3 separate regions of the Homo sapiens genome follow, and regions 1 and 3 are each linked to region 2. The links come from fine-mapping of genetic effects on gene expression. A gene starts in region 2. Each other region holds a variant in brackets. All regions are shown on one strand. Distances are between the middles of the regions. Region 1 overlaps MARCHF1 (membrane associated ring-CH-type finger 1). Region 2 holds the start of MARCHF1 (membrane associated ring-CH-type finger 1). Region 3 has its middle 64 kb from the start of NPY5R.

Region 1 (2,770 bases), 730 kb before region 2:
ATGGGACAGTTTGAATGTCAGATAGGAGAAAAAGAAAGGAAAGAAGGTAGACATCAAGGTTTGGTTCTGAGGAACTAGATGAGTGGATTTGAAGATGAGGAGCACTCAGAGCTAAATGAGGATTTTCTTTGGACAGCTGAGTGTGAATTTTAGAGTTTGGGTTTGGAAACACAAGTTTGAGATGGCTATTAGAAATCCAAGTAAAGATGATGGGTATGTGTAGTTGGATATATAATATTGGAGTTATAAATGTTGGAATCACATTATATAAATGGTGTTTTAAACCATGGAATTGATATGATAACCTAGGAATTGAGTATAGATAGGAAAGAGAGACAAAGATACATCCCAATGCACTCTGATATTAGAGTTCAGAAAGGTAAAGATAAATCATTAAGAACCACCATGAATAGAAATCAGTCTGGTGGGAGGAAAGTCAACAGTGTGAGGCCTTAGAAATCAGATAACAAAGACAAGGCACTTGGAGAAGGATAGAGAGAACCATTGTGTTAAATATATGGTGACATAAACACTAATAACTATTTGGCAATGTGGGATTCATTGTTCACCTTGATCATTGAAACATGATGGTAGAAAGCCTGACTAGAGGATGTTCAAAACATAATTGAAATAGAAATCATGTCAGTAGCTATGGAGAGTTCTTTCCAGGAAAAACAAAATTAAAAAGTGCAAGAAAAAAGGAAAATTTGGGGCAGATGAAGTTTGTGTGATGTTTTAAAGTTCTGCCTTTGAAGCAGTTGAGAGATTGTAAAACCTACTCAAGAACATTAAATTCTCTCATTTTTAAATTATAAAATATATTAGGTATACAACAGGATAGAGGCCTCTATTCCTCTATTTCTTCCTGAAATTTTGATAACTTTTACTCTATATTTTTAAGACTGGGTTATTGGTGCATACAATTTAAGAATTAAGAGATCTTTTGGGTGAATTGTTCTCATTCTATAGTGTTCCTCTTCATCTTTGATAATTATTCCTGCCATAAAGTCAATTTTGTCTGATATTAGTATATCAACTCCAACTTTCTTTTGCCATTTATTGGCCTGTTATTTATTTCTTCTATCTATTTACTTTCGATCATCAGTGTCTTTCTTAGACTTTAGGTAAGTCACTT[G/T]TAAATTCCATACAGCTGAATTTTGCTTTCTTGAGTCACTTTTACAATCTGTCAATTTAATCTCTGTTTCATGACAATCTGTCATTAAACATTGAGTATGATTTGTATACATAAACTGTGATTAGTCATATAGATCTCTATTTATTTCTATTATCTTTTTATGTACTTCTTACTGGCCATGCTTCTTCTTTTCTTTGCCTCTTTTCTCTTTCTGCTTTCTACTATCTTGTTCAAATTTAATTTATGTACGTCTCTCCTTGTCACCCTCCCTTCCTCCCATTCACATGCATTTGGAAGTTACATATTCTATTTTTATGATTTTAAGATTACTGTTTACATTTCTAAAGTCATTCACTGATTTCTTGCTGAATGCTTAGCATTTCAAATACCTTAATTATTATTTTTGCTACTGTCTTACAATAGATGATTTATTTTTAGCTTTACTCTTTTGTTTATTCATTCATAATTTATTTTTGTATTTCATGACATTTCGTACTTAATTTTCTTCTTGAATAAGTAAATTTTTAAAGTTCTTTTAGTGATAATCTATGTAGTAAATGCCTTCAGAATTCATTTTATTTTATCTCTTGAAAAATAATTTAACTGAACTATCCTAAATACAGGAGCACCCAGATTCATGAAACAAGTTCTTAGAGACCTACAAAGAAACGTAGACTCCCACACAATAATAGTGGGAGACTTTAATACCCCACTGTCAATATTAGATGGATCGTCAAGTCAGAAAATGAACAAAGATATTTAGAACTTGAACTCAGCCCTGGATCAAGTGGACCTGATAGGTATCTACAGGACTCTCTACCCAAAACAACAGAATATACATTTTTCTTGGTGTTACATGGAACTTACTCTAAAATTGATTGCCTAATTGGAAGCAAAACACTCCTCAGCAAATGCAGAAGAACTGAAATCATAACAAACACTCTCTGAGACCACAGTGCAATCAAATTAGAACTCAAGATTAAGAAACTCACTCAAAACCACACAACTACATCGAAATTGAACAACCTGCTTCTGAATGACTCCTGAGTAAATAATGAAATTAAGGCAGAAATCAAGAAGTTCTTTGAAACTAATGAAAACAAAGAGACAACATGCCAGGATCTCTGGAATGCAGCTAAAGCAGTGTTAAAAGGGAAATTTATAGCACTAAATGACCACATCAGAAAGCTGGGAAGATCTCAAGTCAACATCCTGACATCACAACTGAAAAAACTAGAGAATCAAAAGCAAACAAACCCCAAAGCTAGCAGAAGACAAGAAATAATGAAGCTCAAAGCAGAACTGAAGGAGACAGAGACACAAAAAACCTTTCAAAAAACCAATGAATCCAGGAGCTGTTTTTTTTTTGAAAAAAATAATAAAATAGACCACTAGCTAGACAAATGAAGAAGAAAAGAAATTAAAATCAAACAGACATAATAAAAAATGACAAAGAGGATATCACCACTGATACCACAGAACTACAAACAACCATCAGGGAATACTATAAATACCTCTATGCAAATAAACAAGAAAATCTAGAAGAAATAAATAAATTCCTAGACACATATACCCTTCCAAGACTGAACCAGGAAGAAGTTGAATCCCTGAATAGACTAATAACAAGTTCTGAAA
Region 2 (2,770 bases):
TCACGAGATATTCCTTTTGTAAACACATTGACATTAGAAACAGATGTTCTGATAGGTACCACCGCTTCCTTGTGATCTGAAAATTGAACCTCCTAAACAAGGAATTCATCAATAAAACCTGTGTCCGCCAAGCAAAAAGCCAGGGGGTTGGGTGTTGGCATGTTGGCTATATAGCACTTATAGGCGAGACAACTCTAAACTAAGGTACCTGAGCAGGTTCAGAATCTTTTTTCGTCAAACCCACAGAGCTCTATAATAGAAAACATTTTGATCTCAAAAATGTTTAGCAAGCAAATCTTTTCTGGAACTACTGAATAACAATAAGAATTGCCAGGAAAACGTGAGGCTCTCTAACTACATATTGGCCATGCCTCTGATTCCATTCACCTGTCACAAATCTCCAAAATCAGCGCTTCAGAAACCAGAGAAAAGAGCGAGAGTGAGTCTCCCTTAACTTTGCCATTTCCCTCACACCATTTGGGGATAAAACTTGGGCGTCTCTCTGCCTCGACTGGTCACTCCACTTCCTGGAGCTCCAGAAACTCCCTCAGCACCTGGATAACTGCGACACTCACCCGTGAGCGCAGGACCCTCCTGGCGTCTTAAGTCCCAGCTCTCAGTCCCGCTGGCCGCAGGAACACAATGACATCTCTCGCCCAGGAGGGCGGTTGCAGGGAACCGAAATCGGACACAACAGTTGCAGTGAACCCGACTCAGGGTTGAGCGCATCAGCGCTAAACCCAAGACAAAGGCTGCCCTGTGTCTTCCGTACTCAGCGCTCTCCTTTGGTAATCGGTCCCCGTCCCCTTCAAGCCCACACTAGGAGCGCGTGAGCCTGTGAAGTGGCTGTCATCGACTCCGCGCTTTCCGAGGGGTGCGGCTCCGTGACTAGTACCACGCCGGTGTAAACAGCGCGCCGCGCACTGGGGATCCGCCAGAAACGGCGCGCGCGCAGAGCGGGCGCTGGGGGCCAATAGTAGCAACTACCCCAGGCTGCGGGCTGGAGCCGCCTCCTCTCACCAGAGAGGCGCCTACTGGGCGAGCCCGCCGCCCGCAGGTTGGGTGGCAGCACCCGCCGCGAACCCCAGCCACGCTCCCCAGTGGACCCACCAGGCAAAGGCACCTGCTGCCTGCCCTCCAGGGCTGATGCTGTGCCAAGCCCCGCTCGGGATCAGGGACAAGCCGCCCAGGACTACCAGCCGGAGAGAAGGGGCTCCCAGTGAGGCTGATTGAATGAATGATGTTTGCAGTCACTTACCGGCGGAGGGTGAAGTAGCTCAGGCGGCCGCCAGGCTGCGTGCGGCCGGCATCCCGGGGCGCGGGCATTCTCCCATCCTTTGTCAGTTGCGGGTGGAGCGCTCCTCCCCAGCTAGCGGACGAGCAGCCGGGTGGCAGGCAGCCCGGCTCTGGCTCGGCTCCCCAGTCCTCTCCCCTCCTCTGCTCCCCCTCCCCTTCTCCGTCCCCCTCTCTGAGCCGGCATTCACTGGGCTCCCATGATGTCATCCAGTGGAAATCTGCCATGCTCAAAGACTGGAATAATCCAGCGCTCACGCGGGGAACGCAGAGCAGGCGGAGGAGGCAACAGAGCCTCTAGGAGTTCCCAGAACTAGCATCTCCAGGTTAACTGGAGTCAAGGACAGGACATAGGGGAGTCTGCGGAAAGCAGGCTCCGAGGGTGTATGTGGGCCGGGTGGGCGCGGTGGGGATGGGGCCGGGGATGAAGAGCCTCTTCTTTGCCGTAAAGATTCCTAAATCAGTACTTAAACTGATGGCAGATGCCAAGGATAAGGAGAAAGTTTTTTTCTGGCTGCTCAGTAGCTCAGGTGCCCCATCTCGGTGATGGACACCTACACTGCAGCCACGATAATAATTAGAACCCCTGGAACCCTCAGAGCCCTAGTCACAATGAGAAAGTTTAGGATGTCTGACCAATGACAGCTTAAATGATGAGCAGCTAAAGTGAGGGAGAAAGATGTGTACTGTTTACAGGCGGGAGTCTGAGGCAAAACATTAAACAACGAGGGGACCTCAACAATCTATGACATGAACACCGAAAAGACCGCTGGTCTGAGGCAAGAAGGCACCAGTAGCAATTCACTCCTAGCCTTAGTATTGACCTCCTGTCTTCCCACCATATACTAATGGACACTCGAGAAGCGACTCTCTTGTGGCCTCACCCAAAGACTGTCATCAATGATGAAACTATTTAAATCACAAGGTTTATTGAAACTCATAAAAGGTGCGATGCCAAATCTTTTGCTCAAGATTCTATATAACATCAATAGAAGTTTTATTAGAGGAATAGACAAACAGCCTGAGTATTTTTGAAGATTCCGCTCTTTTCATGGAAACAGGCAGATACACCAGATCTGAGACCCAGCCCTACAGCAATCTAGAGCAGCTTCATGTCAAAAACTCTCCTGTTCAGGGACCAGATTTCAACAGCTCATGGTTTGTGCTCTAATCAGTCCAAGCTTCAAGGAGGCTCTTGAGTTCCCAGGATTACCTACCACCTGTCATTCCTGGAAGAGACTAAGCTTGCAGAGAAAAGTACCAGCAGCCAGTGCTGATTAGGCAGTCTTCAGTGAGAGTGCTGGGTGGGAACGTGCAGCCTCTGCCGCTGCATTCATCACCATTATCCTTTACAAGTGTGAAGACTAAGAATAACATTTATTACAAGTGTAGATACGGTTAGAAACTCCTTAATCTTTGTAAATACAAAGAGGACTCAATAAAATAATAACAACAACAATTTAAAGGCTACTCACTA
Region 3 (2,770 bases), 980 kb before region 2:
AAACATATTTAATTATATTTTAAATTTCATAATAATAAAACATTTCCTCGCAATATATTTTAAAGCATACTTTTAGTAAGTGGAATAATAGTATGGAATAACGAAAGTGGATCCTTTCATAAAGGGAAATTCACTTTACCAAAAGCCCAATGAGAATCATACTATGGAAAGAGGGCAGCATTAGAAAACCAGTAGGTAATATCTCATGAACTGTGATGAATATATTTCAAATAAAATCAGTTTTTAAAATTCTGCTGAAGTGCTACTTCCCAGAATATGGAGTGACTGTAATCTTGTTTATTTACTATGTGATTTACTTAGGAATATACATAAGACTGCATCATCTTGACCACTGATAACTACATGGTTGTTTATGTGGTTGCTTGAGACTCTTTTGCAGAGTTGTGCCTTTTAAAACTAAAGAGTTGTTAGTTTCATTTAAAAGAAAAAAAAGAAATTACATGCAACTCAAAAAGATTTGGAGCAAATACTATGTAAAATATAATGAGGGTCTTTCCTCCATTCCAGGAAATTTAAGAACACTTTTATATTCTATGATGAGGTCTTCTGAAACTGGAGCCCATAAAGTGCTATTTCTAAAGTAGTATATTTCAATAGATAACTTTCTTAGATAATATGTTTTTATTTCCTTAATTTTCTCAGTGTTTCAGTACATAAAATACTATCAAATTTATATTCCAGGAAGCTTTCAAAAGTATTTCAAAAACATGCTTAACAATTTTTAATGTGACCGATGTTATTTCCTAATGATATAGAAAGTCCTGTTGACCTTGTTATGTGAAAGCACATAATTAGGTTCCAAATTAGTGATCTGTTTAAACTTGATACTCCTGAAGTAGATGAGAGTCTGGTTTTAGGAGAGGCCCAAATTGAGGGATAAAGCTTTGCAAATGAGGCTCAACATTAGTCTATCCTGGTCTACATAATCCAGTTTAAGCTTCCTTAAATTACGGCTTTTCTACATTTCCCCCAAAATCCCTAGGCATATTTCTTCACTTTTAGGTAATGTAAGCATAAAGTAAGGAGAAAATGACATCTTGGGTTAATGTAATTAGGAGGTGAAAAGTCCACCAATGTGTTAAGATTTGAAACAATCTTTATCCAATACATATTTTCCACATTTTGATATTTTAGAACCTAAAATTCACAAGTAGACACTTGGCAAGAAAAAAGTGACAACATACACTTCCTACCCTAATACTTGGGTATATAATAAATCTTTTGTGCCTTGTACATAATAGGTGCACAATAGATGTTTGTTGAATGAATGAATGAATAAATGAATGAAAATATTGTCTGTGTAGGTTTATCCTAACTTGTGGAAAGCATACACTAATGAATTCTACCCTTTCTAGGCATATTTATATCTCTTACTATGATCTTAGGATCATATCCTTTAAGTGAAATTGCTTTTCTAAATCTAACACAGTTATGATATCATGTGATCAACAATGAGATCTTTTATTTGTTTTTAATTCCATCACAAAATAATAATTATTTGATGAGGAGATAATTACTGATCCTTAATCAAAAAGAAAGA[T/G]AATTCTGATTTGGTGAGTTTTCAATAAAGCTTATTAAGTCTACAGGGAAATATGGAGTTGGTGAAAGCTAGAAATTGGAATCTACAGTCAGTTGCCGAATAGCTTATTTCATCTCTTCATTTCAGTAAAAGACATGAAGCTGGCAAAGCCAATATTAAACTTGTTATCGAGTCCAAAAATTACTATACAGCGTTCATGAGAAGACTACAGCAATGCTTCCAGACTCAAACTGCTCTTAAAATTTCACTGAAGACAGATTCAGCCTAATTCATGAATATATTGAATTAGCATGACTACATGCTTTATTCAGGTCACTGAGGAGACTGAATTTATCTGCTTAGTGGGAAGGTCAACTGGAAGGGAATTAATTAAGGAGTGTTGGAAATGGATTACATTGTAAGCTTCCATATAGAATATAAAAGAAAATTAAGACCCAGAAGGTAAACATCAATAAGTAAGAGAAAAGGTGCACCAGGTTCGCATGGATTAAAGGTACATTTTAGTGAAAGAGAACAAATACATTTTCTGAGGACAAAAGGATATGGAAGTAAATTAAAGTACTTATGAACCTTAGCTAGTCATAAGAAAGATAGGCTCTTGTCTAACATTTAACTCCATCAGTCTTAGCAACTGCCTGAACACATGAAACTTTACAAAAAAACTTCCATTTCCTAATTTGGGGAACTTGGTTATTTTAAGTTTTGGCAAATTTGGTTTAGACTAGTATTTTAAAATTATTCTTTTTCTAATCTTTATGCCTCTAAGACCAACTATTAATAAACAAATATTACAAACTTAAACAGCTAGTCAAGCCTCTAAAAGCATATATAATATTATTCAAAATAAAAGTATTAAAGAATGAAGCCTGAGCAACAAGGCATAAGGAGCTAATTTAAAATTAAGATTTGGCATCTATGTATAACTTTTGACAGTTTTGTTGTTTTTTCCATTAAATACAGTACTCTTCTTTTTTTTTTTTTTTTTTTTTTTTTTTTTGAGACGGAGTCTTGCTCTGTCGCCCAGGCTGGAGTGCAGTGGCGCGATTTCGGCTCACTGCAAGCTCCGCCTCCTGGGTTCTCGCCATTCTCCTGCCTCAGCCTCCCGAGTAGCTGGGACTACAGGCGCCCGTCACCATGCCCGGCTAATTTTTTGTATTTTTTTTTTAATAGTTACGGGGTTTCACCGTGTTGGCCAGGAAGGTAACGATC

Evidence for each region. PIP is the estimated chance that this variant, and not a neighbour inherited with it, causes the effect. A credible set is the group of variants that fine-mapping cannot tell apart.
Region 1: its variant is the best candidate, but not a certain one, in a credible set for the expression of MARCHF1 in whole blood (TOPMed, PIP 0.52).
Region 3: its variant is the best candidate, but not a certain one, in a credible set for the expression of MARCHF1 in whole blood (INTERVAL, PIP 0.74).

Annotation. Positions count from the first base shown.
Region 1 is chr4:163,653,629-163,656,398 of GRCh38, forward strand. The region is part of intron 5 of MARCHF1 (membrane associated ring-CH-type finger 1); the gene reads right to left. Among named protein-coding and RNA genes, the nearest start is that of TMA16, 160 kb to the left of the region's middle. The variant G/T (reference allele first, on the strand shown) is at 1,136.
Region 2 is chr4:164,382,612-164,385,381 of GRCh38, forward strand. It overlaps MARCHF1 (membrane associated ring-CH-type finger 1), which reads right to left and starts at 1,408. Exons shown (of 10, transcript NM_001394959.1): 1 at 1,259-1,408. RefSeq lists an enhancer at 636-1,137.
Region 3 is chr4:163,406,426-163,409,195 of GRCh38, forward strand. No RefSeq gene overlaps it. Among named protein-coding and RNA genes, the nearest start is that of NPY5R, 64 kb to the left of the region's middle. The variant T/G (reference allele first, on the strand shown) is at 1,562.